Homo sapiens: one gene and its partners. The protein of the gene in region 7 purifies or fractionates together with the protein of the main gene of each other region. This does not show direct contact. Each region holds a gene or a part of one and is shown on either strand. Other genes may lie near its edges. The genes, in order: POLR2B, ANXA5, RPA1, URI1, NIF3L1, GPN3 and RPRD1B.

What was found.
Region 1: the proteins of RPRD1B (region 7) and POLR2B purify together in Homo sapiens (affinity purification with mass spectrometry; 6 studies listed by BioGRID and IntAct, with this or other methods). This does not show direct contact.
Region 2: the proteins of RPRD1B (region 7) and ANXA5 purify together in Homo sapiens (affinity purification with mass spectrometry; one large-scale study listed by BioGRID and IntAct). This does not show direct contact.
Region 3: the proteins of RPRD1B (region 7) and RPA1 purify together in Homo sapiens (affinity purification with mass spectrometry; 2 studies listed by BioGRID, with this or other methods). This does not show direct contact.
Region 4: the proteins of RPRD1B (region 7) and URI1 purify together in Homo sapiens (affinity purification with mass spectrometry; 3 studies listed by BioGRID and IntAct, with this or other methods). This does not show direct contact.
Region 5: the proteins of RPRD1B (region 7) and NIF3L1 fractionate together in Homo sapiens (co-fractionation; one large-scale study listed by BioGRID). This does not show direct contact.
Region 6: the proteins of RPRD1B (region 7) and GPN3 purify together in Homo sapiens (affinity purification with mass spectrometry; 3 studies listed by BioGRID and IntAct, with this or other methods). This does not show direct contact.

The regions. Positions count from the first base shown.
Region 1 is NC_000004.12:56,988,522-56,992,742, forward strand, and holds part of POLR2B (DNA-directed RNA polymerase II subunit RPB2), read left to right. Parts: intron 1-2,226; coding exon 2,227-2,377; intron 2,378-4,221. UniProt on the Homo sapiens protein: Catalytic core component of RNA polymerase II (Pol II), a DNA-dependent RNA polymerase which synthesizes mRNA precursors and many functional non-coding RNAs using the four ribonucleoside triphosphates as substrates.
Region 2 is NC_000004.12:121,672,267-121,676,487, reverse strand, and holds part of ANXA5 (annexin A5), read left to right. Parts: intron 1-3,861; coding exon 3,862-3,955; intron 3,956-4,221. UniProt on the Homo sapiens protein: This protein is an anticoagulant protein that acts as an indirect inhibitor of the thromboplastin-specific complex, which is involved in the blood coagulation cascade.
Region 3 is NC_000017.11:1,832,740-1,836,960, forward strand, and holds part of RPA1 (replication protein A 70 kDa DNA-binding subunit), read left to right. Parts: intron 1-4,221. UniProt on the Homo sapiens protein: As part of the heterotrimeric replication protein A complex (RPA/RP-A), binds and stabilizes single-stranded DNA intermediates that form during DNA replication or upon DNA stress.
Region 4 is NC_000019.10:30,011,389-30,015,609, forward strand, and holds part of URI1 (unconventional prefoldin RPB5 interactor 1), read left to right. Parts: intron 1-896; coding exon 897-1,143; intron 1,144-3,498; coding exon 3,499-3,681; 3' UTR 3,682-4,147; coding exon of another isoform or gene 4,148-4,204; 3' UTR 4,205-4,221. UniProt on the Homo sapiens protein: Involved in gene transcription regulation. Acts as a transcriptional repressor in concert with the corepressor UXT to regulate androgen receptor (AR) transcription.
Region 5 is NC_000002.12:200,892,371-200,896,591, forward strand, and holds part of NIF3L1 (NIF3-like protein 1), read left to right. Parts: coding exon 1-9; intron 10-875; coding exon 876-1,038; intron 1,039-2,893; coding exon 2,894-3,020; intron 3,021-4,221. UniProt on the Homo sapiens protein: May function as a transcriptional corepressor through its interaction with COPS2, negatively regulating the expression of genes involved in neuronal differentiation.
Region 6 is NC_000012.12:110,457,689-110,461,909, reverse strand, and holds part of GPN3 (GPN-loop GTPase 3), read left to right. Parts: intron 1-2,047; coding exon 2,048-2,215; intron 2,216-4,221. UniProt on the Homo sapiens protein: Small GTPase required for proper localization of RNA polymerase II (RNAPII). May act at an RNAP assembly step prior to nuclear import.
Region 7 is NC_000020.11:38,039,683-38,043,903, reverse strand, and holds part of RPRD1B (regulation of nuclear pre-mRNA domain-containing protein 1B), read right to left. Parts: intron 3,470-4,221; coding exon 3,340-3,469; intron 1-3,339. UniProt on the Homo sapiens protein: Interacts with phosphorylated C-terminal heptapeptide repeat domain (CTD) of the largest RNA polymerase II subunit POLR2A, and participates in dephosphorylation of the CTD by RPAP2. Transcriptional regulator which enhances expression of CCND1.

The DNA of each region.
Region 1 (4,221 bases), on a different chromosome or scaffold from region 7:
AAAAAGAGAAATCTGGCAAAAAGTCAGCTTTTCATTGTGCCTGAGGTGATGGTGACCTTTGATTCCATTTGTATTTAAACATCTGTATTCCCTGCCATAATATCTTTTGCCACCTATAGCTAGAATGAAGCATTGTCCTGGAGCCATTTAAGAGTAAACTTTTGTAAACACAAAAAATAAAACAAATTGGCTGTAGAAGACTAAACTTTACTGAGACAGTTACATCTTCTGTGATGTTTGGGTGTTAAACACCAAGAGATATTTTATTAGGAAACAATAACCAGGTAGATGTTCTGTGGAGTGTGCCTATATTCTACATTCTCCCGGTAGAAAAAATATTTTATCTTAGGTGAAAAGAAGTTGTTTTCAACATATGTGGTAGATTGCTCAAGGATAAAATACTCTATTGTGAACTGTCATAGCATTTATCATTTGTTACAAAATAAATTATTTGATTTTTAAGTTTAAATTGACTGTAGATACTTTGGCTATTGAGAAATGAATTTTGATTTTTTTTTACTTTTTAATATCAAGTGATCTTGTGAATGTGATATTAGTTAATATCACAAGTAACTTCATAAGATGACTTCAGGTAAAATAAACAGAGTAGAGATCATAAATATGAAATATTTATATAGTTTAGGTGTTTAAGCACCATTCTAATGATTTTGGGTAAAGTAGCTATAGTTCAGCTTCCTGGGGTAATGAAACTTATCTATAGTTTAGAAGCTATTCATCTTAAATTGCCTATAAAAAACCATGGCTATGTATATTACAGGCAATGCCATGTTTTTCTTACAATATCAATGGCTAATCCACATGGTTGTGAGAAATTTCTTTCCCATTATGTGACAGTCTCTACTGAAATAAATTGCCCCAACTGTTATTTAGGTCATACCTTACACATGTGTGATTGTCTGCTGTGTTTTCTACCATAGGACCTAACTTCTAATTTTGGTGGCCATACTTGACTGGATCAGGGTGGGGCCAATTTGTTGGCCTGTCACTGATGTGCGAGGTGACCTGATGAAGCCAAAATGGGAGGCTGATGATTAGTTGGACTCTGCATATTGTCTTAGAAAATTGATGTGAAGATGGGGGAGTCAGTAGTTGGGGAGTAGAAGCTAAGAAGGTCTCACAGATATAAGATGACAGAGGTCACAAGATATAGGAGTGGAGACGTGGAGGTGTGGTGGGGCACTTCCTACTGCTGAAGGGTGATGGGATAATCTTGAGGGTTGTGCTACATCCTCCAGCCTCTGTGATGCCCAGCTTTGCAGCTGTCCCTGGATGGTAATAGGGAGTGATCTGTTGAGATCCTCTTGCACGTGTATCTACTTGTCTCTGTATGTCTTTCCCCACCCCTCACCTGAAAAGTATCTGTTCCTTATAAATATGATGTCTGCTTTTTAGATTGCAGCTCTCTCAGCCATGCTGCATTTTTATCACCAGTCTTTTGCTGAGTATTTTTATGTAAAGACTTATTCTTCTTATCCTACCTTTAAGAATTCAAAATAGAACTAATGATCTATAACCTAAAGTTGGCATTCTCATGCATTATTTTAGTCATTAATATCACTACCCTCCGTCCTATTCAAATGAAAGTTCTTATTGTTATCTTTGACTTTTCTTTAGTTTTCTCTCCTGACATATTTGTCAAGAAGTACTTCAAAGAGGTGGAATAAAATTTGTCCATAAAGGGCATAAAGTTTTTTTTTTTCTTTGAGATAGGGTTTCGCTGTCTCCTAGGCTGGAGTGCAATGATGCAATCATGACTCAATGCAGCCTCAAACTCCTGGGCTCAAGTGATCCCCCTACCTCATCCTCTTGAATATGTGGGACTATAGGCACATGCCACCATGCCTGGCTAATTTTTTTCTTATTTGTTGAAATGAGGTCTCATTGCGTTGCCCAGGCTGAACTCAAGCAATCCTCCTGCCTTGGCCTCCCAGGAGCTGGGATCCTTATAGTTCTTATATTGTGCTTTAAGTATTTTACCCCCAAATATAAGCTGCTTTTCCCCAAATAATAAGTTCTACAAAGAAAATATGCCCGGTTTCATCCTTTTTAAGATACCTCATAGTGTCTTGTTTAGTGGTTGACATATAATGGTTGGTATTTTATGACTGTTTCTTGAATAATGAAAATGGGGAAATAATGAAAATGGGGAATTATGCTAGAAATTATCACTGAGTTGCAACTGACTGAACTCAAATATTTTCCCAGTTCCTATTTTGACGAGAAAGGCTTGGTTAGACAACAGCTGGATTCTTTTGATGAGTTTATTCAGATGTCTGTTCAAAGAATTGTGGAAGACGCTCCTCCTATAGACCTACAGGCTGAAGCTCAGCATGCTAGTGGAGAAGTTGAAGAACCGGTAAGATAGTTCTAATAGTTACACAGGTACAAGAAGCGTATTGGTTTGAAATTTTAGCCCTTCTCTTACCTGGCTTAAAGGTTAAAAAAAGTCAGTTGGAGCTTTTAGCAAAGTACTTACAGCACCGTCAATCACTTTCTGATTTATTTTCTCTAATGAAGAGGTGTGTTTTTTTGCAAGTTATCCCATCCTTATTCACATAGTAGGTATTGAATAGCTGGGAAGAGAGGACTCTGAAATATGAACAAATAAGAGAAGTGAGCCAGAGATGGTCACATTGCTTTAGATAGATAACCCCGCTTTTTTCTCTCACAGTGTAAAAATAATAAAAAATGTTTGAAGGAATTTTCATCTGATTTTATATATTGCATGAAGTACATTATTATAACCATATGAGATAAGAAAGGAAAATCACCCAAACATAGCAGCTATCTTTACTAAGTTTCTTGTAGCTTTTGCTCACATATATGCAGGTTTTTTAGCATTGTTAAAATCATACTAAGGGTATAATTTTATAATTTGGTTTTACATGAGTGATTATAAGAAGGATGTAGTCCAAAATAATGACTGTCCCAGTTTTAGAGAAGTTGAGAGGCAGCTGTTGGAACATATTGGACTTTGAGAGACAGGGAAAACTGAGAAACAAAGTGAGGTAGGGAAAGCCCCCAAAATAGAGCTAGACACAGGGAGAGTTCATTGTTTCTAGCCTGATCAGTTTCTCTTCTGTGTAGCTTATCTCCTAAGTGCTGGTCTGTTATTTCCATTTTAGTTGGACATGCTGTACAGAATTTTGCTGTTAAGAATGAAAGTGATTGGCTCTTCTAGGGCTGTGCTGGAAAGGGGGACATTAAGTTTCTTTTTTATTCTTGGGTCATTTTTTTCTTTTTTACAGGGTCTATAGGTGCCCACCACCATGCTTGGCTAATTTTTTTGTATTTTTAGTAGAGATGGTGTTTCACATGTTGGCCAGGCCGATCTCCAACTCCTGACCTCAAGTGATCCACCTGCTTCAGCCTCCCAGAGTGCTGAGATTATAGGCATGAGCCACTGCACCTGGCTTGTTGGGTCATTTTTTCTTCATGGTCTTTGTATAACAAGCCAGATAACAATATAACATAGCAAATTGAACGTGCCAGTAACAGAAGTACTAAAAGAGGAGTAGATCTCTAACACCTAGTTATCAGAGCTTAGTAGAAAAGATGGAAGAGACTTAAATTTACTATGAAGAACTCTCTTAGAAGAGAAAAGGTGCTTAGTCATTTCAGCAAGGAAATATTTGGTGTGGCCGGTGCGATGGCTCATGCCTATAATTTTAGCACTTTGGGAGGCCGAGGCGGGCAGATCACCTGAGCTCAAGAGTTTGAGACCAGCCTGGCCAATATGGTGAAACCCCGTCTCTACTAGTAAAGTACAAAAATTAGCCGGGTGTGGTGCCAGGCACCTGTAGTCCCAGCTACTAGGGAGGCTGAGACAGGAGAATTGCTTGAACGTGGGAGACGGAGGTTGCAGCGAGCTGAGATCACGCCACTGCACTCCAGCCTGGGCGAGAGGTCGAGACTCTGTCTCAAAAAAAAAAAAAAAAAAAAAAAAAAAAGAAAAGAAAATACTTGGTGTATTTAGGCTGGGGACCACAATGATCAGTATGTGATTTTGGCTTATCTATTTTTTTTTTTTTTTTTGAGACAGAGTCTCGCCCTGTTGGCCAGGCTGGAATGCAGTGGCGCGATCTCGGCTCACTGCAGGCTCCGCCTTCCGGGTTCACGCCATTCTCCTGCCTCAGCTTTTTGAGTTGCTGGGACTACAGGCGCCTGCCACCACGCCCGGCTATTATTTTTTTGTATTTT
Region 2 (4,221 bases), on a different chromosome or scaffold from region 7:
GATAAAGAAACAAACCCATGGCTTCCACTGAATAGCAGTGGAGTTGGAATTCCTAACGAGGCCTGTCTGACTCCAAAGCTCTTTCTCTTTCACTAGAAGATAGTCAGTGTTATTGAATATTAATATTTCACTATAAGAATATTTCACTGTAAGATATTCAGTGTTCTTGAGTATTAGTGCCTTCCCTGATTTTCTCTATCATTAAAGGGCTTATTAAATATCAACTCAAGCATAGATCTAGCTTAATTCCACCTTCTTTCGGGAAGAGGGCTAGAGCAACCCTACAGAGTTGTACTCCTGTTAGGGGCTTTGTTCAGTACTGAGGTGATCTTACTGCTTTCCAAGCATTGGTTGTGGCTTTGCTAGGAGATAGTGCTGATTCTCTCATTCCTACTGTCAAGAGTAGGATAGGAGTTCTGGGAGCTTTTCAGGGTCACAGTGTAAGAAACCAACTCTAGTCCTCTCAGATGTCTGCAGTGAGGCCTGCATTCACAGGCAGAGGGCAGATTTCCCAGCATAGTTGGTGATGTAATGAGAGCATTGCTGCAGCACGAGGCTCCTGAGGGGAAAACAGTACATTTTAACCTTGTTTTCATTGATTTCTGTCCTTGGAGCACTTACTGGATAGCACTGCTGCTCAAACTTTCATGGGCATGTGGCGCACCTGGGACCTTTAATTGCAGATTCTGATTCTATGGGTCTGGGCAGGGGCTGGGAGTCTGGATTTTGAACATGCTCTCAGGTAATGCCTGCATTCTTGGTCCTTTGATTACTGAGGCTGTATAGGTGACACTTACGTGTCATGCAGTGGATATAACCATTCAGAACCCTGAGAGTACATGTGAGACTGTACATGTGAAAACTGCTTTATGGAGTTACTTTAAAGTATCCCTTGAATGGAATCCAAGCTTTTCTTAGCCTTCCAGTGACTAGGAGCAATACAGAACATGTTACACTGGCTATTATTTTTGATTCTTTCAAATGTATTATTATTAATTAATAAACCTGTTGAAAACAAATAATCTTTTGGCATTATAAAAAGGAACACACCAACTTGTACCTCGTAGCAAGGGCAGCTGGACTGTTATCACTAGTGAGAATTTGAGATTTCTTAATTGAGAGTAAGCTGAGACAGCTAAAGGGCTCTTTTATAAGCTTTTGCATTTTTGTCTCTACTGATACCTGGCACTAAGAAGATTTCTATTATTTGAGAGGTTTGATAAGCCATAGTGAGTCATTCACTTGGGAACTGAACGTTTTGTAGATAATCCACTTTTTAACATTTTTAATGTGTTAAATTGATTTAATACTTTTAATGCATTAAAACAGATTTACCTTCTTCCCCAGTAAATCCTTGTTTTATTCTTTCTCTGGAGGGAGAGTTGAACTCTTAGAGGAAAGAGGGAGAAGGAGAAGTAATCAGGCACTTTTTACTTTTACTGGGCATTTGCTACTGATTACCTGACACTGTTCAGTGCATTATCTTAGTTATATAATCTCCGTTAATGACTATATACACTGAGGCTGAAGAGGAGATTAAGTAGTTCATCTGAGATCTTGCAGATAGACCACATCTGTTTTGACTCCAAAGACTCATCCTTTGCACTGAACCAGGGCTTATGAAACTGTACTCAGGCTGAACCGTAAAGCTTAGGGAAGGGGTGTAAGGGTCCCTCATCCAGATGGATCCATGAATATTGGGCATCCTCATTTAGGAGAAAGGATACTTAGATTAAAACAAAACTGTTAAATATCATTGTTTTACATGAAGAAGCCATCATTATTATTGCATATGATTACTTAATAATAGTTTTACAGTAGATATTGATCCCAAACATAATTCTCCCAAGAAAATTAAAACATTGTGGTAAAAATAACTGACATCTCACCAATTATTCCCATATAACAGGCTTAACTCCTGTACCTACTAGAGAACATTTCTAGACATTTAAAACAGTTGATAAGAAGTGTGTGCATCAATGTCTGTGATATTGTACAAGATGAGTCCTTTACCCATTTAGGTGTTAATGTATTTGTATATTTTATCTACATGTAGAAACATACCAGAAGTAGTAACTAGCACCCTCAGGAAATTGATATTAAATAGCAACTTTTCTTTTCTTTCCTTTCTCTTTCCCCTTTCTCCTTTTTCCTTTTCTTTCCTTCACCTTTCCTTCCCCTCCCATTTCCTTACCCTCCCCTTTCCTTCCCCTCCCTTCTCCTTCCTATCCCCTCTCCCTCCCCTCCCCTCTCCCTCCCCTCCCTTCTCCTTTCCGCCCCTCTCCCTCCCCTCCCCTCCCCTCCCTCTTCCCCTTTCCTTTCCTTCGTGCCCAGGCTGGAGTGCAGTGCCATGATCTAGGCTCACTGCAACCTCTGCCTCCTGGGTTCAAACAATTCTCTTGCCACAGCCTCCCGGGTAGCTGGGATTACAGGCATCTGCCACCGTGCCTGGATAAGTTTTGTATTTTTAGTAGAGACAGGTTTTGACAGGTTGCCCAGGCTGGTCTTGAACTCCTGGGCTCAAGCGATCCACCTGCCTCAGCGTCCCAAAATGCTGGGATTACAGGCATGAGCCACTATGCCTAGCCTGCAACTTCTATTTTCTTATTTTTGTTCTTTCTTAGTTTTATAAAATTTCTCAATGAACTTGCGTTGTTTTTGTAATTAAATTTTAAAAGTTATTTTAAGAAAGGTCTGTGTCATCATGATATAGTTCTAAAGTTTAGATGCATGCATGACTTTCAGAGTTACTGTCTTTTCAGGTTTTAAGAGCATGTTCACATGGCCAGAATTGATATTATTCATTTTTATCTTTAAAATAATTAATTTTAAAATTGAGCATAAAGATACATGAGTCTCATTTTTTTCTTATTCTCCAGAAATATAATAAAAAATAGATCTTTACCACCATAATCTACATTTTTAAATATACTGTGATCAAAACTTCTATATTCAAGCCTGTTATTATCACTTCCTGTCTTTATTTGGATTGCTGCTTGTGGGTATAAGGCCAACTGCAAGTAGCAGCCTCAGCAAATTGCATTCATCTTGCTTTAATATGTAGACTTAGTTTGAAATGAATAAAAGGATAGTACAGTCATTGTAAAGGTTGATTCTTTGGGTTTTAATAAATTATTCTCACGTCAATAAGTGGATTCAGAGTTAACGTTGATGTTTGTATATAAGCTTATTTTTTTAGGCAGCTATACGTGCACAAGAAAGCATATTTTTTCCCCATGTCAAAAAGGAAGTATGGGCACTCAAACTATTCAACCACTACTTATTGAGTGCTTCTATATGCCAGGCACTGTGCTATACCCACAATCTTTTAAAAATTTATTGTGATCTTTGGAAATATGAAAACATTTTATAGCTAGCCTTGGTTAAATCTCAGTTGTAAAGAGAAAATATGAAGTGTACTTTTACTCATGTGCTATTGAACAGCTATAGAACAAGCAAAACAGAAAAGGCAGACAACTTAGCTTCCAGTTAAATCCTTTCCCAGTCTATACATGGATGTATCAACAGTGAGGTAGTCATAACTTTCTCCTGACCCATACTGTTGCTTCTGAAAGATTGGAGGTTATGGCAGACATTTTGGGAACATGTAACCTTGCACCATTGCCGTGCTTTGTTGCTTGGACCCATGAATCTTCTGTGGCACAGTTCAGTGGCAAGCTCCAAAGGTGCTCCAAACTCAGTGAGCTGAGTTTCAGAGTAGGACACATTAGAAATGAAAACTATTAATACAAGATGATGAATCAAGTGAGTTAAAATTCAGGGAGTAAAAAACAAGTGTGTTTAAGAACCTGGAAATGAGATGGAGGAACAATTTATTAATTGAGTTTGAAATTTTTGCAGGCTTTATTTCAGGCTGGAGAACTTAAATGGGGGACAGATGAAGAAAAGTTTATCACCATCTTTGGAACACGAAGTGTGTCTCATTTGAGAAAGGGTGAGTGAAAAAAATCTGTATGGGGCAGATACATTGGTAAATTTGGAAAGTGCATGAGCCAGTGTGACAGAATACCTGCTACATAGCAGGGACTTAGAGAATGAATCAGTTTTTGTATTTCTTCCTTTTGGTGACCTGGAGAAATCTCAACATTGTTTTTGCTGCTGTTGTAGCTTTTACAAACTAGAGATCCTGAGTCCACCCTTCACTATTGGAGGATGGCAAGGGAGGTCAGTTCTCTAGATTGTTCCTCTCATAGTCACACA
Region 3 (4,221 bases), on a different chromosome or scaffold from region 7:
CTGTAAAATGAGAGCAATGATATCTATTGCATAAGGTAAGTAGGAGGATGGAGTGAGTTATTAAATTTAAAGTGCTTAGCACACTGATACATAGTAAATGCTCAGTGTTTATGTTACCTATTAATAATTGCAGTTTTATGTTTGTTGATTTATCAGTTTCTTTTTAAAATTTTAAAATTATTGTGTTTGTTTGTTTGTTTGTTTTGAGACAGAGTCTTGCTCTGTTGCCCATGCTGGAGTGCAGTGGCACATTCTCGGCTCACTGCAACCTCTGCCTCCCGGGTTCAAGCGATTCTCCTGTCTTAGCCTCCCTAGAAGCTGGGATTACAGGTGCCCACCACCACACCCTGCTAATTTTTGTATTTTTAGTAGAGACAGGGTTTCGCCATGTAGGCCAGGCTGGTCTTGAACTCCTGGCCTCGAGATCCACCCACCTTGGCCTCCCAGTATGCTGGGATCACAGGCTTGAGCCACTGTGCCTGGCCTAATACTTTGTGTAAATTCCATGAGGCCTGCAATCATGTCTGGGTTATTTTACTCTGCATTGTATCCCCAATACCTGGAGAAGTGCTGGCAAGTTTTAGGTGCTGAATAAATGCTTGCTAGTTGCATGAATGAATGAGGCAGTGGGAAGAAAGGGACAGGTGAATGGGGAAGAAAGGCAGCTTGGGGGAAAAACAGGAACAGGAAGAACTATTGTTGGACTCAAGTGAATATTTAAATAAATTAGGAATGTGTGAATGCTGAAACCGGGGAAGTGATTTTAAATTGTAGCTTTCATTTACTTTATAGCTGCTACCTTGTGTCTTTAAGACAAATTAAGAATGTTTCTAGGCCAGGCGCAGTGGCTCACGCCTGTAATCCCAGCATTTTGGGAAGCCAAGGCAGGCAGATCACCTGAGATTGGGAGTTTGAGACCAGCTTGGCCAACATGGAGAAACTCTGTCTCTATTAGAAATACAAAATTAGCCAGGTGTGGGGGCGCATGCCTGGAATCCCAGCTACTTGGGAGGCTGAGGCAGGAGAATCTCTTGAACCCGGGAGATAGAGGTTCCGGTAAGCCAAGATCGCACCATTGCACTCCAGCAACAAGAGCAAAACTCCATCTCAAAAGAAAAAAAGAAAAGAATGGTTCTTCACTTTTAAAAAGACTGATCATGGGCCAGGCGCAGTGGCTCATGCCTGTAATCTAAGCACTTTAGGAGGCCAAGGCAGGTGGATCACTTGAGGTCAGGAGTTCGAGATCAGCCTGGCCAACATGGGGAAACCCTGGTCTACTAAAAATACAAAATTAGCTGGGTGTGTTGGCGTGTGCCTGTAATCCCTGCTGCTTGAGAGCCTGAGGCAGGATAATTGCTTGAACCCGTGAGGCAGAGGTTGCAGTGAGCCGAGATTGCACCAGTGCATTCCAGACTGGGCGACAGAGTGAGACTGTCTCAAAAAAAAATAAAGAATGATCATGGAGATATTTAAATAATTTGATAAGTTTTTTTATTTTTTAGAGATGGGGTCTCACTCTGTTGCCCATGCTAGTCTCAAACTCCTGGGCTTAAGCGATCCTCTCGCCTCAGCTTCCCAAAGTGCTGTGATTATAGATGTGAGCCACTGCACCTGGCCATGTTTTTATATTCAAAATTTTATAAACCTATTTCCAGCGTAGGTGAAGTATTTTGTTCATAAATGAAGAATGAAAGTTTCACATGTGTTTGTGGTGATGGAATGAGTTGGAGAACCTTTGCTGACTTTCATTATCAGCTAAAGCAGGTATCATTTTCGTTCAAAAGACACAGGCCACAAAGGGTACGCAAATACCACACACATGTGAAGGCGTTTGGGCAAGAGTCACATGATAAAATAAGAGATGATGCATAGAACTCTTGTGGTCAACAGAATACATAGCATTTGTATCTTAATTATATAACGAAAGGGGAAGGGAACTAATGTTTTTGACTATTTCTAATGTGACAGATGCTTTAGTAGTCAGTACTTAAGTAACCCTAGAAGATAGCTATTATACTCCCATTTTACAGAGGAAGGAAGTACAGAGAGGTTGAATAATGTGTCCATGGGGTGAAGATTTGAACACATGTGCCCTTGAGTATTACATTTGTTGCTTTATATACTTACTAGGGATTTTTTTTTTAAAGGGTCTCACTCTGTTGCCCAGGCTGGGGTGCAGAAGCACAATCTCAGCTCACTGCAACCTTCACCTCCCAGGTTCAAGTGATTCTTTTGCCTCTGTCTCTCGATTACAGACGTGCGCCACCACGCCCAGCTAATTTTTGTATTTTTAGTAGAGATGAGGTTTCGTCATGTTGTCCAGGCTGGTCTTGAACCCCTGGCCTCAAGTGATCTGCCGCCTCGGCTTCCCCAAGTCCTGGGATTACAGACTTGAGCCATTGCACCTGGCCGTAATTTTTTTTAAATGACAGAGTCTTGTTCTTTGTCTCTCAGGCTGGAGTGCAGTGGCATGATCATAGCTCACTGCAACCTCCAACTCCTGGGCTCAAGTGATCCTTCCACCTCAACCTCTCCAGTAGCTGGGAGTACAGGTGCATGCCACCATGCCCAGCTAATTTTTTTTTTTTTTAATTTTGTGTAGAGATGGGGTTTCGCCATCTTGCCTAAGCTGGTCTCTAACTCTTGGTCTCCAAACAGTTCTCCTGCCTTGCCTCCCAAGTCTTTGGGATTATAGGCATGAGCCACTGTGCCTGGCCTTGTCCCTTAAAATGAGTTACATTTGTAAACAGCTGATTTCTTTGGAGCATCGTCCCCATATACTTTTCTTTCATAAGTGATCTCATCCTTCTTCCACCCAACCTTCCCCTTGAATTTGTTGTTTGTTGTTGTTTCCATTTTAGCAGAATTCATGTTGCTCTGATAGGGGCTCTTTTCAAACTGATGTCTTATCCTTCTTAGTACCTCAAACTAGGTCTTGTTCAGACATGTTATAACAAGTTAGTATGAGTTTATTTTAGTGCAAAAAAAATTTTTGAAATGCATGCATAGTTTTTTCATAATGCACATTTTTCGTGTACTTTTTGAATCCCCCTCATACATGCACGTGGTTTTAAAATCAAACGGAACAGAAAGGTGTTCATGGCCGGGCATGGTGGCTCACATGTGTACTCTCAGCACTTGGGGAGGCTAATGCAGGAGGATCCCTTGAGGCCAAGAAAGAGTTTGATACCAGGCTGGGCAACATAGCAAGATCCTGTCTCTATTTCATTTAGAAAGAAGAAAGAAAGAGGTGTTTAATGTAATTACTGACCTCCTGCCTTACCTTGTCCAGTACTGTTCCCCAGAATAACTGCTTTTTAGAAAAATCACTGTCATTGACATTTTGCTTACGTATAGTAAATTGCACCTTTTTTATTTATTTATTTATTTATTTGAGGCAGAGTTTCCTCCTGTCACCCTGGAGTGCAGTGGCGTGATCTCAGCTCACTGCAACCTCTGCCTCCCAGGTTCAAGCAGTTCTCATGCCTCAGTCTCCTTAGTAATTGGGGTTACAGGTGCACGCCACCACCTGGCTAATTTTTGTATTTTTAATAGTGATGGGGTTTCACTATGTTGGCCAGGCTGGTCTCGAACTCCTGACCTCAGATGCTCCTCCTGCCTTGGCCTTCCAAAGTGCTGGGATTACAGGCATAAGCCACCATGCCCGGCCAAATTGCACGTATTTTAAATGTACAGCTTGATGAACTTTGACAAATGTGCGCACCCCTGTAACCACATTGCCCCTGTGGAGATATAGAATACTTCCATCAACGCACAACTCCTCTTGCTCCTTCCCCACCTCCATCCTCACCCTAGGCAACCAGTGTTCTGGTTTCTACCTTTGTAGGTTAGTTTTGCCTTTCCTAAGACTTCATATAAATGGAATCAAATAATATCTATCCTTTTGTGTCTGGCTTCTTTCAGCAGTTTTTTTTTTTTCCCCAGAGGTAGGGTCTCTGTCACCCAGGCTGGAGTGCAGCGACACAGTCATGGCTCACTCCAGCCTTGACCTCCTGAACTCAAGAGATCCTCGCACCTCAGCCTCCTGAGTAGCTGGGACTACAAGTGCATGCCACCACTCTTGGCTAATTAAAAAAAAATTTTTTTTTTTTTTTTTGAGACACAGTCTTGCTCTGTTGCCAGACTGGAGTGCAGTGGCGCAATCTCAGCTCACTGCAACCTCTGCCTCCTGGGTTGAAGCGATTCTCTTCCCTCAGCCTC
Region 4 (4,221 bases), on a different chromosome or scaffold from region 7:
CGGCTGTAGCTTCCCAGTCCAGAGCAGTGGGAATGGAGGATTTTTTTTTTTTTTCACTTTCTCCTCTTCACCAGTGCTTTTGAAACATTTCCAAATGGTCTAGTCAGAAAATCTTGTATCTTCAGAAAGCATTTTTGTTTCCAGTGGGCTAGGTCCCTACGTTTCTACCACAGCCGTAACATGCTTGGCATGCAGTTTACCTTTTCAGAGTAGAAATTATACTGTTGCAGGTTTTTTTTTTTTTTCCTTTTTTTTGGAATTGTTTGTTGAGAAAACTATCACTTGAAAATACCTACTGTTTTTATGACCCTTATTTATAAATCAGTGAAAATTGCTAAATGTATACGTGGGTCTAAAACTTTATGTAGAATTTTGGCAAACCATGCTATTGCCACCTAGGACATGCTTAAAAATAACATGCTGTGTTTTTGTTCTCACTCATAGGTGGGAATTGAACAATGAGAACACTTGGACACAGGGTGGGGAACACCACACACCGGGGTCTGTCATGGGGTGGGGGGAGGGGGGAAGGATAGCATTAGGAGATACACCTAATGTAAATGATGAGTTAATGGGTGCAGCACACCAACATGGCACATGTATACATATGTAACAAACCTGCACGTTGTGCACATGTACCCTAGAACTTAAAGTATAATAAAATAAATAAATAACATGCTGTGTTTTATTATTAGGCCAGAGAAATAGCTTTCAAAATAGTATGAAGATACCATTTGAGGCTATAAAATTATTGTGATTGTGACTATTTTAGATATAAGATTGTAATAAAAATTTTCAGATTAATTTCTAGAATAGATTCAAGGAAATTTTCAAAAAGTTGTTCTCAGTTTTATGAGTTACGTATAGTGAATGCATATGTGTTTTGAATATCACAGAGCCTTTGTTGATGTTGTGAATGGAGAATATGTCCCTCGCAAATCCATCCTGAAGTCTCGAAGTAGAGAGAATAGTGTGTGTAGCGACACTAGTGAAAGCAGTGCTGCTGAATTTGATGATAGGCGGGGAGTTTTGAGGAGTATCAGCTGCGAAGAAGCCACTTGCAGTGACACCAGTGAGAGCATTTTGGAAGAGGAACCACAAGAAAATCAAAAGAAACTTTTGCCCTTATCAGTAACACCTGAGGTGTGTGTGTGTATCTTTTAATTCTTTATTTCATATAGTATCTTTGACCAGTTTTAGCTATTTAATCTGAAAAGTCATAAGATTAAATTAATTCTAGGTTTTATACTTTCTTGGTACTAATTAATAAAAAATTAATAGTCACAAACAGTACAAATATTGTGATAATCAAATAGTTTATTTTTTGATAAACACATTACTTGTCTTAACGTTCTATTTCAGCAAAATGGGAAATTTAAAATGTCTTACTTGGCATTATGTATTACATTTGTAGCTAGGAAATTATTTCGCAGTTTATTTTAAATAAATTACCAGTAGGTCATTTTCTGATAGTGTAAGGAGCAGATTACATTATTCTCTTTTAAATACCTTGGCTAAGTTAAAGAAAAATAATGCATGCATAGCAGATAATTACCTAAAGTCTAATATTTTACCTTGTACCAGTGAAACTTAACTCTTGGGGGATTATGGAATTGTTTTATAATCTGATGAAAGCTGTAGACCCTGTCCATAGAAAAAATAGTGCACACTCAATACACTTTCACCCACCACACTTCTTACAGTTTTTGGTGGTGGTGCAGGGGAGGTTAGGAAATCCCCAAATAAGGATGTCTGTGAAATATAAGGCTATTGATTTCTTCATTCTTGTGTTTTGGTGCGTATTTGAAGTTTTCAATTTAAAAAGTATTTAGGAAGATTGGGGAACCCATGCCTGGATCAAACCAGTGTACACATTTGTATATACAATAAGATACATGCATATATATAACCTTATCTAAAAATTCCATTGCTTTTACTAAATGGTATTATACTCAGTGTATTAAATGGTAATTGGGGATGGAGATTGGTAGCATTTAGGGACAGTACATATGACTAGAATGTTTTCTTCCCCTCTTCTTAGTATAATGATCTTAGGTGACCTGGAAAGTATCTTACCTTATTTGATAGTCTTCCATACTGTTAGAAAACAGGTAATGGATGTTATCAGGTAATTGCTGATAAATGTTTGAAAATTAGTTTTTTGTAAGGACTTAGTGTATCATGGTACAGCTAGAGTGTGGAACCTATTTTTTATTTCACCCTTAGTAGCTTTGCATTTTGTATGGAAATGTTTAATAGTAGTTGCTATACATTTTTTAACATCAAAGAAATAGTTCATGATTATGGTAAGTACTTTGGAAGATATCCTTTTCAGTATCTTTTTAAATGCTAAAATACCTCTTTTTCAAAGGCATTTTAAATAGAAGAAGGAGAAGAAGGCTCTATGCTCATCGTGATAAAGTGGAGTTTTTAGGAAAGTAAGCTTTAAGCTGCTTTTACCAGTTGAACTCCAAAAATAATGTAGGAGAGAGATGGCTTTCTTTGTTTTTGTTTCAGTGGTGGGGCAAGGTAGAAGAAGGTGGCTTTTTAAATTATTTAGGTGTTACGTTGTTTTAACTAATTTTGAGCACTTGGTAGACAGAGGAGAACAAAATGTACATTAAAGTTCACCTGTCAAATTTTCATTTGTAGAGGGAAGGATGGAGGTTCTAAATACCAGCAATCTTAAAAAAAAAAAAAAAATTAACTCCTTGTGTCTTACCTATTTTTGTATAAAACGACATGTACAGATATTTCCAGCAATTTATGCACATTCTTTAATTCTGTTCCAGTTGAACATATAGTTGACCAGATTAAATGCAGCAAACATCCAGGTGAAATTGAGTCATTTCTTTTTTTGTGGAACTTCTGATTTCTGTCATTGAGTTAATTATATTAAAATTTTGAAACCTGTACTTATTCCTACTAGTATCAGCACTTTTATTTTTCAACTTCCACTGATCTTTTAAAATTGAGGCAATATGCAGTAAAATATTTAAATAATTGCATAAACACCACCAAAGAGATATCAGTTAGAAATGTCAGTACTGGTGAAACTAAGCTATTGGCTAGCAGGCAGCAAGGCCATCATAGGATAGCTCATTCATCAACTGATGTACAAAAGTCAGAGTTTGACACCCTAATAGCATTTTTATTTTAATACATTATTTTTCACAGCATGGGCTGGACATGAATGGAATGTATGAAAGTTTGAAGACCTTTTATTTATCCATTTCTTTTTTTTCCCAGATAAAATTTACATTTTACATTTTGTTTTCTTGCATGTATACTGTAAAAATTACTTCTGTTTGGTGGTGAAATTAAAACTTAATGGTGTTGGTTTCTCTGAACAATTAGTATTTTGGTGTAGTAGTGTTGTCTAGCCAAAAATCTCGTGAATTTACTTTTAATGAAAAGAATTGCCAAATGAGTGAATGGGAAGATTTTGTGGGTGTCTTATTTGCATTTTATTACCATAACCTGACTTTTGTTTTCTAGGCTTTTTCTGGAACTGTTATAGAAAAAGAATTTGTATCACCTTCCTTAACACCACCCCCAGCCATTGCTCATCCCGCACTACCCACTATTCCAGAACGAAAGGAAGTTCTGTTGGAAGCATCTGAAGAAACTGGAAAGAGGGTTTCAAAGTTTAAAGCTGCCAGATTGCAACAGAAAGACTAGGCCCTGTCTAGGAAATGGGAATTTACATCCTAAAACCTAGTTGTTCATTTGTTTAGAGTATCTATAGCAAAATAGGTTACATGTAGTTTGAAATAAGGTATCCTGAGTTACTTTGGCAACAAGTTCTTTTACCCTTACCCGTGGTATTTGAAAAAAATCAAGGTAACTGTCTGAATACTTTAATATCAGCTTGTTTTGTGAATTCTCTGAATACTGTCAACACTCTTATCTAAGTTTGCCTTTATGATGCAGTGGCAGCATTTTGAATTACTTTTCAAAGAATACTGTTCATATGCATTGTTTTTGTGTTTCAAACTAAATACAGGCAGTTTTGTGCCAGCTGTGATATTGTGCATACCATATGGACCATTTTAAAGAAAATTTTAAAATTTCAAATAGATTCAACAATTACATTACTTGCTTTCACATTTTAAAGGCACTTTAAAAAAATCTACTTCTCTTGTAGGTTTTGCGGCTAGTTGGCTATTCAAGAAACCTCGCCCCTCTGAATGTCATACTGTAATCTTTAAGGAAGAAAGC
Region 5 (4,221 bases), on a different chromosome or scaffold from region 7:
AAGGGCTTGGTGAGAAGCCTCTTTCATATTTGATATTTTCCCTGCAAATACTTTGAAACTTTAGGATGTCTTTCCAGTAAAGTTTTAACTGCTTTAGGGTTGGGGAGGGCATGATTCCATTTTTATATAATAATTTTAAAATAATGTTGCTGAAATTTGGCAGTTAAATTGCATTTGAAAAAGGAAACATTTTTTATTCTTATGGAGTAAGGAGAGCAGAAGTCTTCCTTACTGGACTGAGCTTCATGATTCCTCACTTTTGTGGCACAATGCCTGTCACCCAGGCACTTGGAAAATGCTTGTTGAATTGAAAGCTCAGGCCTCTCCAGAATACACTTGATTGATAAGTCAAGTAAATAGACATCAGGGTTTTAATGAATGTTTTTAGTGAATGTTTACTTATGCCTAGCACAATGAGGGAATGATGGATGGATTTTAGCTTTATTTTAGTAAGTCTTTAGTTTACTCATTTTGGGCTAAAGCTTTTATGATGATATCTGGATTAATGTGGTCAAATAAAGTATGAGCATTTGCAACCTGAATGATGGTTTACATGGCTAGATTTACCAAGCAGTAGACCATTCTGTGTATTATCTGAAAATGTATGAATCAGTCTTTCTTGTCCAAGTTTTTCAGAGATTTAAGAATCTTTTGGAAAATAATTCTGAAAATAATTTGATTTTGTATGTCCATGCCAAAGCCCTAGATTATGGGGACTGGTGATGTATATCTAAGGGATGTGTGTATGTTATGTAAGCATGAGAATGAATCTTTTTAAAAAGTCATTTCTTAGAAATTTTGCCTATAATAGTTTACTTTTAAATCTTAATCTCTCACCCCCCAAAACTCCCATTTTCCCACAATATTTTCTCTAGGAGCTTGTACCTCCAGGCCCATACATCCTTCCAAAGCTCCCAACTACCCTACAGAGGGAAACCACCGAGTAGAATTCAACGTTAACTACACCCAAGACCTGGACAAAGTCATGTCTGCAGTGAAAGGAATTGACGGTGTTTCTGTCACTTCTTTTTCTGCTAGGTACAATTTATTTTTCTCTTTTTTTTGTGTGTATTTATTGGTAAGCATCTTCCTTACAAAGTCTATAACCCTGGTATTTAGGCTTGAAACAAATAGTTTTCTCTGGAGTTGATTTACAAAGTAGCATACTCCTCATTTGTTTGTGGGTCCTGGAGAACTATGGAATTTTTTCAAAACAATAAAAACGGTAAGTAACACTAAGTATTTTCTATGTCAGGGGACTATACTATGCATTTTACCTACAGTATTTCTAATCCTGGTAATGTTCAAAGATAGTTGTTTTTACTTTAGAGAATACAGATAGATCCTAGTGATGTGGTGATAAGGCTTTTATTGGTTCCCAGCAAATCAGTGATTCCCAAGTGCTTTTTTATATTTATCTTTACATTTTAAATATATATTTTCATAAATCAGTCTTTTTATTTAACATCATGGGAAATATTTTTCTGAATAGTCTTTTTTTGTTTGTTTTAAGAGACTCCCAGGCTGGGCACGGTGGCTCACACCTGTAATCCCAGCACTTTGGGAGGCCAAGGCTGGTGGATCACCTGAGGTCAGGAGTTTGAGACCAGCCTGACTAACATGGAGAAACCTCGTCTCTACTAAAAATACAAAATTAGCTGGGCGTAGTGGCGCATGCCTGTAATCCCAGCTACTCAGGAGGCTGAGGCAGGAGAATCACTTGAACCCGAGAGGCGGAGGTTGCAGTGAGCCGAGATCGCGCCACTGCACTCCAGCCTGGGAGACAGAGAGAGACTCTGTCTCAAAAAAAAAAAAAAAAAATGCAGATTTTTGTATTCACCTCAGACCTTATAATTAGAATGGAGTTTGCCTGAGAATCTGTCCAGGACATTCTCAAATTCAATGATGTTTTAAAATTATCATCTCTAAGGCTTTAAAAAAATTCATTTTGCCCCAGCCCCATTTGTAGATGTTCTGTTCACTGGTTCTGTGGAAGGATCCAGCAGCTGTTATTTTAAGAAGCTAGAAGGAATTTTTTTTATTTTTTTGAGACAGAGTCTCACTCTGTTGCCCAGGTTGGAGTGCAGTGGTGTGATCTTGGCTCACTGTAACCTCCGCCTCCCAGGTCCAAGTGATTCTCCTGCCTCAGCCTCCCCAGTAGCTGGGACTACAGGCACCCGCCCCCCACCACGCCCGGCTAATTTTTTTTGTATTTTTGGTGGAGATGGGGTTTCATCATGTTGGACAGGCTGGTCTTGAACTCCTGATCTCAGGTAATCCACCTACCTTGGCCTCCCAAAATGCTGGGATTACAGGTGTGAGCCACTGTGCCTGGCCTTCTTTTTTTTTTTTTTTTTAACTTTAATTTTTTAATAATTAAAAAAATAATAAGATAGGGTCCTGCTATGTTGCCCAGGCTGGTGTTGAACTCCTGGGCTCAAGTGACCCGCCCACCTTGGCCTCCCAGAATGCTGAGATTACAGATGTGAGCCACTGCACCTGGCCAAGAAATTTCTGATGCACAATCGGGATTGAGAACAGTTCTTGAACAGTGGTTTCAAAGTGAGGTCCTTGGACCAGCAACATCAGCATCACCTGGAACTTGTTAGAAAGGTAACCTCTCAGACCCCCACCTAGATATAATGAATCAGAAACTCCAGGGGTGGGGCCCAGCACTCTGTGTTTTAATAATCCTCCAGGTGATTCTGATGCCCAGTAGAGTTAGAGAAATGCTATTCTAGAAAATGGATTAGTTTCAGATTAAATGGGTTCTGTTGGTTAAATCCTTGGTTCCACATAAATCTAATCTATTATAGTAGGTTTGTAAACTGTGGATTATCTAAAATACATTTTGGCTATATTTGTCCTAAATGGAGTGATTTTTCCCCCCTAGGACTGGTAATGAGGAACAAACACGGATTAATCTGAATTGTACTCAGAAGGCTTTGATGCAGGTGGTAGATTTTCTTTCCCGGAACAAACAACTTTATCAGAAGACGGAAATTCTGTCACTGGAGAAGGTAATAAGAATATTTTGTATTTGATCTTAAAATACTGTGCACACATTTTCTAACAGTATAATTGAGGTATAATTGATATACTTAGGTATATTGAGGTATACCTTATTGAGGTATAATTGATATACTAAGAATTGTACATATTTGATGTGTACAATTTGATGAATATCATTACTTTGCATTTTTCTTCAGCAAATTCATTTGTAAATTATTAGATCAACAGGCCATTCACTGTTATCTAAAGTACAAAATGGCAATGAGAGCATAATATTCTCTAGGAAGTAATTGAGAAAGGGAGACATTCCAGGAACAGGAAAATATTGGTACGTCTTCAGGGTTACAGATTTGGTTACAGGTTTGCTGTCTCCTTATTTTACACGCTCTGCCTGGACCATGTCATTCACTTCTTTAACTTGATAGCCATTTGTATGATGATTTCTATCTTTACTTTTTGGCTTAGAATGCTTTCTTAAGGGAAAAAATGACAAGAACCCATATTTTCATCTACTTTCTGGATGTTTTGCACTTACAGAGCCCACAAGTATTTCAAATTCAGTATATCCAAATACTTTATCCGTTTGCCACCCCCGCTTTTTTTTTTTTCCATATTTCATATTTCAGTATCATTATCTACTTTAGTTTCCAAGTTTTCACATTCCTCCTTGACTCCAGGCCCTGCTGAGTCTGGCCTCATATCTATACAGTGTTTCTCCTCTGTATTGGCTCTGCCACCACAGTAGTTGAAACTCTCATTTTCTGCGATGAGAGTAGTCTCACCGAGCACCTAGGAGGCAGTCCAGGCTCTTTAGCATGGTGTTGGAAGCCCTTAATGATCTGCTACAGCCTGGGCCTCCAGCCTCCTCTCCTTCCACAGCATGTACTCTGCACAGTAGCCATACTGTCTTCTTTTGGATCTGCCCCCATAGTGTGTTCTCTCAAGTTTTTGGCACCTTTGTCCATGTCCTCTGTGTTTAGAATGCCTTTCTCCATCTCATCGTACCTCTGTCCTGCCACACTGCACTTGACATCACCCCTTTTTAAACTCTTTATTTCCCCCTTTTTAACTCTTTTAGGGTTTTCTCTAAGACCTAAGTCCTTCCTCCAAGTACTCCCCAAGCCTCCTAAGTCACAGCTCATTTAGTTTGTCATTCTTTGTGCTGCTGCAACTGTAGCACCTACCTTGTATTTAAACAGTTTTATTATT
Region 6 (4,221 bases), on a different chromosome or scaffold from region 7:
TGATTATGCCACTGCACTCCAGCCTGGGCAGCAGAGTGAGACCCTGTCTAAAAAGAAAGAAAGCCAGATTGATTGTCCCAATTTGGATCAGTTATCTGTTATTGATTGCTGAGGGAGGGGGTAGGAAGGTGTTGTCAGTATAAATGTGACTGTGAATGAAGCTCAGTCCTTTGTGAATGGAGAATGTAGGTTTGAGCACAAAAATAAGTAAAAACCTAAGGTAGAAGATTCTATATACTGATTCCCCAAAATTAGTAAGATAACCATACCAGAATTTTTTAAGCCTCTCCTGTTGGTGATTTTTTTTTTCCTGAGACAGTCTCTCTCTGCCACCCAGGCTGGAGTGCAGTGGTACCATGTCATCTCACTACATCCTCTGCCTCCTGGGTTCAAGTGATTCTCCTGCCTCAGCCTCCCGAGCAGCTGGGATTACAGGCACATGCCAGCACACCTGACTAATTTTTCTATTTTTGTTTGTTTTTGTTTGAGATGGAGTCTTTTTTTTTTTCAATTTTATAACTTTATTTGATGTATTTGACGATCAGTGATTAGTTCTCATCGACATTGTCTGTAGATTTTTGAAAGTGGTGACAGGTACATAGGTAACCAAAGTATATGGCTTATTTGGTGAATCTTCATCCTCATTACGTTTTCTGGACAGCTGCACACGGATTCAGTATGGGACATTCCTTATTCCTTTGGCCCAGACAGCTTTGTTGAGCCTGGTATCAATGCGCACATCTGGAGTTCCCATCTCCTTCATGGCAAATTTCTGAATCTCTTTGAGTGCCTGAGGGGCACGCTTCTTGAAGCCCACTCCATAGATGTGCTTGTGAATGTTGATGGTGTATTCTCGGGTTACCACTTCGTTGATGGCAGAATGGCCCTTTTTCTTCTCGCCACCCTTCTTTGCAGGAGCCATTCTGCTGGGTCCAAGTTGGAAAGTGAGATGGAGTCTTGCTCTGTCGCCTGGGCTTGAGAGCAGTGGCGTGATCTTGGCTCACTGCAACCTCTGCCTGCTGGGTTCAAGTGATTCTCCTGCCTCAGCCTCCGGAGTGGCTAGAACTACAGGCGTGCGCCGCCATGCCTGCTAATTTTTGTATTTTTAGTAGAGATGGGGCTTCACCATGTTCGCCAGGCTGGTCTCGAACTCCTGATCTCATGATCCCCCCACCTCGGCCTCCCAAAGTGCTGGGATTACAGGCATGAGCCACCATGCCCAGCCTAATTTCTATATTTTTAGTAGAGACAGGTTTCAGCATGTTGGCCAGGCTAGTCTTGAACTCCTGACCTCAAGTGATCCGCCTGCCTCATCCAAAGTGCTGGGATTACAGGCAGGAGTCACCGCACCCAGCCCCTGATGGTGATTTTGATATATTATCTCATAGTTCTCATCCTTCTAACCCAGGATAAGGAAAGTGAGGCTCAAGGAGGTGAAATAGTTTCCTTAGTGTCATTGTGTTAAGAAATGGTAATCTGTTTTCTTTTTTTGGTTTTGTACTTTTTTGGAATAGGTAATACATATTCACATGGTTCATAATGTAAAAGTACTAAAGAGTAAGTATACAGGAAAACATCTTCCTCTCAGCTCTGCATCCCAGCAATCAGCTCCCCTCCCTGGCAGCAGCCAGTGTTACCAGTTTCTGGTGTGTTCTTTCATAGCCTGTGCACATAAAATTCAAGATGTATATGTATTATGTCTATGTAGTGAATTTTTGTCTTTTATTAACACCAATGATAGCATTCTTACACAGTTCTGCACCTTGCATTTTTCACTGAACAATATACCTAGGAGATTGTATTATTATTAATACTTAAAGAGATTTTCCCCATTTATGGCTGTGTAGTATTCCATTGTCGGGCTGTACAATAATTTATTTGCTCAGTTCTCTATTGATGGACACTGCTACAGGGAAAAGCCATGTACATAAATAATTTCCTGCATATGGGTTTTTTATGTAATTATTAACTTTTATGTTCTATTTCTAGTAAGGATAACAATTTTTGAAGGGACACATATATTCTGGGCCCTATCTGTCCTTTTCAGACATCCGGGAACTGATCGAGGTGGATGATGTAATGGAGGATGATTCTCTGCGATTCGGTCCCAACGGAGGATTGGTATTTTGCATGGAGTACTTTGCCAATAATTTTGACTGGCTGGAGAACTGTCTTGGCCATGTAGAGGACGACTATATCCTTTTTGATTGTCCAGGTGAATCAACAATTTGAATGCATTGTCTTCCTTAAAGTCTTGATAGTTCCATCCTTAGTAGGAGAAAGGAGAGTGAGTATTTGTAGCTCTAAACTATACTGCAGTAAAGTACCAAGCTTATTCAATGGCTGTCACTTACTAAGTATATCTGTTGAGGCCGGGCGCAGTGGCTCACGCCTGTAATCCCATCACTTTGGGAGGCCGAGGCAGGTGGATCACGAGGTCAGGAGATCGAGACCATCCTGGCTAACATGGTGAAACCCTGTCTCTACTAAAAATACAAAAAATTAGCCAGGCATGGTGGCGGGCGCCTGTAGTCCCAGCTGCTCGGGAGGCTGAGGCAAGAGAATGGCATGAACCTGGGAGGTGGAGCTTGCAGTGAGCCAAGATTGTACCACTACACTCCAGCCTGGGCAACAGAATGAGACTCTGTCTCAAAAACAAAAAAAAAAAACAAAAAAAAGTATATCTATTAAGTGCTTGCTTTGTACACTGGGAATACCATAGAGCACAGATGGCCATGGTCTCTGGCCTCATGGAGCTCACATTTGGCAGAACTCGAGACAGTACAAACAAAAAGCATCCAAATGATTATTTAATATTCAGTTGTCATTGAGTATTCCACAGGAGTAGCACAGATCATCACACAGATAATGGCGGTTAGAGAGGCATCTGAGGCGGCCTTTCAGCTGGGCTGGAGGCTGAGGGTGAGGAAGGCAGAGGGCACAGCCTGCTGAACACCTCCCAGGAGGAAGGAACAAAGCTGTTTTAAGGCACTGAAAAGGCCAGTGTGGCTGGAGCATAATAAACAAAGAGGCAATTGTCATGAGGTGTGACTGGTAGGAGACAGATAATAGCACATCATGGCTTCTGAAGCCAAATCGTGAATTTTCTTTTTTTTTTTTCTTTTTTTTGAGACTGAGTTTCATTCCTGTCACCCAGGCTGGAGTATGATGGCGCCATCTCGGCTCACTCCAGTCTCCACTTCCTGGGTTCAAGTGATTCTCCTGTCTCAGTCTCCCAAGTAGCTGGGATTACAGGCACCCACCACCACACCCGGCTATTTTTGTATTTTTAGTAGAGACAGGGTTTCACTGTGTTGGCCAGGCTGGTCTCAAACTCTGGACCTTAGGTGATTCACCTGCCTCGGCCTCCCAAATGCTGGGATTACTGGTGTGAGCCACCACCTCCAGCCCAAATTGTGAATTTTCAACTTGAGCCTAACCTGGCTTTGACCATTTATGGCCCTCACTTTTTTCCCCTTGCTTTTAATTGACCATACATATACCCACAGAAAAGTATATATGTCATAAGTATACAGCTTGATGAATATTCCCAAACTATAGATATCTTTGTAGCACTTATTTATTTATTTTTGTAGAGATAGGATCTCACTATATTGCTCAGGCTGCTCTCAAAGTCCTGGGCTCAAGCTATCCTCCCACCTTAGCCTCCCAAAGTGCTGGGATTACAGGTGTGTGAACCATGGCATCTGGCCAATAACACTCATATTGATTGGCAGAAAACTAAAGTGTGAAGAACCTCATTTTCTTTCTTTCTTTCTTTTTTTTTATTTTTAAAGACAGAGTCTTACTCTGTCGCCCAGGCTGGAGTGCAGTGGCGTGATCTTGGCTCACTGCAGCCTCCTCCTCCCGGGTTTAAGCAATTCTTGTGCCTCAGCATCCCACAGGCGCGCACCACCACGCCTGGCTAATTTTTGTGTATTTTTAGTAGAGATGGGGTTTCACTATGTTGGTCAGGCTGGTCTTGAACTCCTGGCCTCAAGTGATCCACCTGCCACAGCCTCCCAAAGTGCTGGGATTACAGGCATGAGCCACCCTGCCCAACCAGAGAACCTCATTTTCTACATAAAACTTAATAGTTAGGGATTCCTATGGTGGCAGTACCTTAGGTTTTATGATTGCTTTGAGAGGCTGTGGGCCCCTTAAAAATGTGTTGGCTTTTATTTTTGTCCATCTTATGGGGAAAATTTGTTTCCTCTAACT
Region 7 (4,221 bases):
CTCCTTGGAATATTCACTAGCCACCTCACACTCGGCCTGGCCAAAACAAAACTCGTGATTTCCTCCACCAAATCTTTTCCCCAATCTTCACTTCAGTAAAGGGCACCATCAGTCATTCCTTACATCAAAAACCTAGAAATCGTCTTTGATTTCTCTTTTCACTTACTACCAGCTCCCACTCAACGCCTATAAATCCTATCAGTTTTACACTGGAGAGGTGGGGATCCTCCCACGAAGGAAGCACTCAATAAATGGAAGCTATTAGTATCTTCCCATTGCTTCTGAGTCCTAGGCAATGTCACCTCTAGCCTGCATCACAGCAATATCCTCCAAACTCATGTCCCCGCCCCTCCCTTGGCCTTTACAATCCATCCCTCTACACTAAGCCATTTTTAAAGAGGGATGTTTTAAAAATGTATGTTGGAATATATTGGAATATATCATTCCCCTGGTTAAAACTCTTCAATGACATCCCATGAGAAAAAAATCCTAACTTCCAAGACTTACAGGGTGTATGTGACTGCTGCATGTCCACCTCTCGGACCTCATCTGGATATCACTTTTCCCTTTGTGCACTATATTCTAACCACACCAGCCTTCATTCTGTTTCTCTTAGAAGGCCAAGATGATCTCTGCCTTAAGTTTTTCTTAATAGCTGCTCCCGCTTCGCATGATTACCGCAAATGTCATTTCCTTAGAGGCCTTCCTGAACCACACTACCTGTGAGATCCTACTCTAGAACATCACTCCATTTTACTATGTCCATATTGTCCTGCTCTGAAAGTATCTTGCTCATTTAATTGTCTTTGCCTGCCTTGTTCACTGCTGCTCCCCCCGTGTCTGGATCCATACTTGGCACATAGAAGGCACTCCAATACATGTTGAATGAAAAATGACATGGACAGCTGTCTCCTCACTGGGAAGAAAACAAGGCACTTGTATGAAAAGCAAGTTTGCAGTCTGGTTAATTAAACTGCTATTCAAATCAAATCTATCCTATGAACTTGGCAGCTTTCTCTGACTTGAGAGTTTTTTTTACTGTTTGTTTGTTTTGGGTGTGGAGGTGTCTTTTATCATAAAAATATCCCTCATCAATTTAGTCAACAGTAATGGGTCAACTATCTTTGTTCATCAACTGACCACAGAAAAAGCACACAGAAAGTATATGTTAATTAGGCTACTCCTACTGTGGACGAGCTGCATCACGGTTGAAGCAGAACTGTTGGACTTTCTGTCCCAATAATGGGGTATAAGAAAGGAGATTGGAAACATGGGTATCCTGAATGTAATACCCAAGCAGAATCTTAAAAGAACCAGAATGCAAACAGAAAGGAATTCGGGCTATTTTATTGAGAAGGACCAGGTTTATCTTCCTCACACTGCCACTGAATCTGCCAAGACACCTAAAACCTGGCTAGTTTTTAAGGTGTTCCCAAGAAAAAAGGAATTTTTAACCCTGGTGTTGCCCACCCCCTTTTCCACCCCTTTCTATTTACTTTTTGGTTTCAGGACAGCTAAAGATTACAGATCGTTTGTCTGTTTGTAATTTAGAGACAGGGTCATGCTCTGTTGCTAAACCTGGAGTGCAGTGGTATGATTATAGCTCACTACAGCTTTGAACTCCTGGGCTCAAGCAATCCCCCTGCCTCAGCCTCCCAAGTAGCTAGGACTACAGGTGCACACCACCATGCCTGGCTAATTTTTAAAAAATTTTTTGTAGACACAGGGTCTCACTATGCTGCCCAGGCTGGAATTTTTTAATAACACTGTTATGTTTACTATCCCTACAAGAAATCATTCCAGCCAACTCCCTAGACCAAATCTCTTCCATAATGAGTTAACATTAATTAACTCATTTAACAAATATTTACTGAACGCCTACTGTGTCAGGGCAGACCATAATGTTGCCCAGCTCCTGGGACACCACTTACATGGAGGCTATATAAATGGTATTCCTTCAAGCTACATAACTCAGCAGCTCTGTGCCAGACACTTTACTAGGTGCCTGGAATATAGGAAAAAACAAATGATCCAATGAATGAGCAAATGTGGAACAGGCATTGTACTACATACTTTTAAACATATTGTCTGTCTTTACCCTCACAACTCTTATGAGGGGGAGTGGTATCCTCCCCCTTTAGCCAGTTAGGAAATTTGGGCTCAAAAAGTTAAGTAACACATCCAAGGTCACTCACATAGTGTCTGAGGCAGAGCTACCATCAATTTCTAAGCAACTGTGAACTAAATCTCATCAAAGCAAGAAAATCTGTCTATTTCAGATAGCTCCTCTAGTAGTCTGTTCTAAGCTTACTCTGTTATGAAGATTCAGTATTTTTTTCAAGTTAATAACACATTTTGCTACTTGCGCCCATGTTGATCAAAAGGTGAGCCAGTTATGTAACTTATCCACAAAAACCATCTTTTTCATCTCTAGAAAGCTAGGTGTCATTTCTTTCTCTTGGATTTCTAATTTTATTCCTTCAAACTTTTCAAATCCTGCAATGAAAGCAGGACTTCATTTCTCATTTAAGGCCTTTCACTATATTTTAGACCTAGTAACAATTTATGTTTAACCTACTAGTCTCCCATTCATGTTTCCCAATTCCTTTTGCAAATATCTGTTTATATATTTACTTATAAACATAATATTCTAATGAACGATAGTTTTTCTTTGCTTTTCCTGGGCACCTAATTTAAGCCCACAGAAAGCTTTTGTTTTTACATGAAGTAAAGTAATTTATAAAACTTTTAATCCAATGTATGCTTTCTATGGTATTAGTTGTATGAGTGCCACTCCTCTCTGCCACAAAACACAACAGCACCAGGCTTAATACAATATAGCCAGAGCAAACACCTACTTTCTACACTAATAATTACTATTATTGCAGTTACAGTAATGCCTACTATTTTTAGTAAACTAGACATCTAGAAATCCAGAAGGAAATAAAAAGGAAGGCATTTGGCAATTAATTTCTTGCTATTAAGTTATGTTACTAAAAGGTTCCCTTACTAGTTAGCTTTGTTTTTTGATCATAAGCTGATGAGACAACTCAACCAAACCAAGGAAAATACCATAACCAAGAAATAAATTCAAAAAATGAAAATGAATATATCTAGAAGAAAGATAATGCTAGGCTGAATCTCTCAAATGTATCAGAATGTTTACATGTCTCGATAGTTCTTGAGGGCTCAACAAAACATAAAACCACAATTCGGCCTCCACAACTCTCTGTAAAGTAGGAAGTTGTCAATTTACAAAGGCTATCACAGAAAAGGAAAGAACAAAAAGGTGGGAAAGGCAATGAATTTAAAAACAAATCCAAAAAACAGACAACATACCTGGCAACATGAGAAAAAGCATCCACAAGGACAGATTCAAATTCTCTAGTGAATTCAGGTCCTTTCCTTTTACTGTTTTGGATGACATCATTCGCTAAATACAGAAAAGTAAGCTTTCTATTTGATTTGGCTGAAAAAAAGAAAAGAAAAGAATTTAACTTACACCAAAGAAATTCTCAATTCACAATTCTTTTGCCCTGGGCTGCTCCTAAAAAAACATTAAGACAAGTATTATCTACCTGGGGGGTCAAGTAGATATGTTTAAAAAGACCACCTAAGGAATAGGTTTGGGAATACCATTTCGGAAAAAAAAAAAAGAAAAAGAAAAAGAATGGGCCATCTTCATTGCTGTGTTGTTTAAACCAGGGTAATTAATTGATAGTAAAAATTAAGATAATCCAAAGAGAATTCCTAAAGGATAAGCAGTCAGTGTTAATGTTGAAACTAGGGCTTTTATTTATTCTACTGCAAAAATGAGCAACTTCTAACTCACTTTTAATTATCAAATATTTCAGAATGAAAGACTGAGTTGGCCGGACGCAGTGGCTCATGCCTGTAATCTCAGCACTCTGGGAGGACGAGGTGGGTGGATCATTTGAGGTCAGGAGTTTGAGACCAGCCTGGCCAACATGGTGAAACCCTACCTCTACTAAAGATACAAAAATTAGCCGGGTGTGATGGTGGGCACCTGTAGTCCCAGCTACTCAGGAGGCTGAGGCAGGAGAATCGCTTGAACCCAGGAGGTGGAGGTTGCAGTGAGCCGAGATTGCACTACTGTACTCCAGCTTGGGCAATAGAGCAAGACTCTGTCTCAAAAAAAAAAAAAAAAGACTGAGTTAGGTTTCAATTTTAAAATGGTTTCGCCGAGCGTGGTGGCTCATG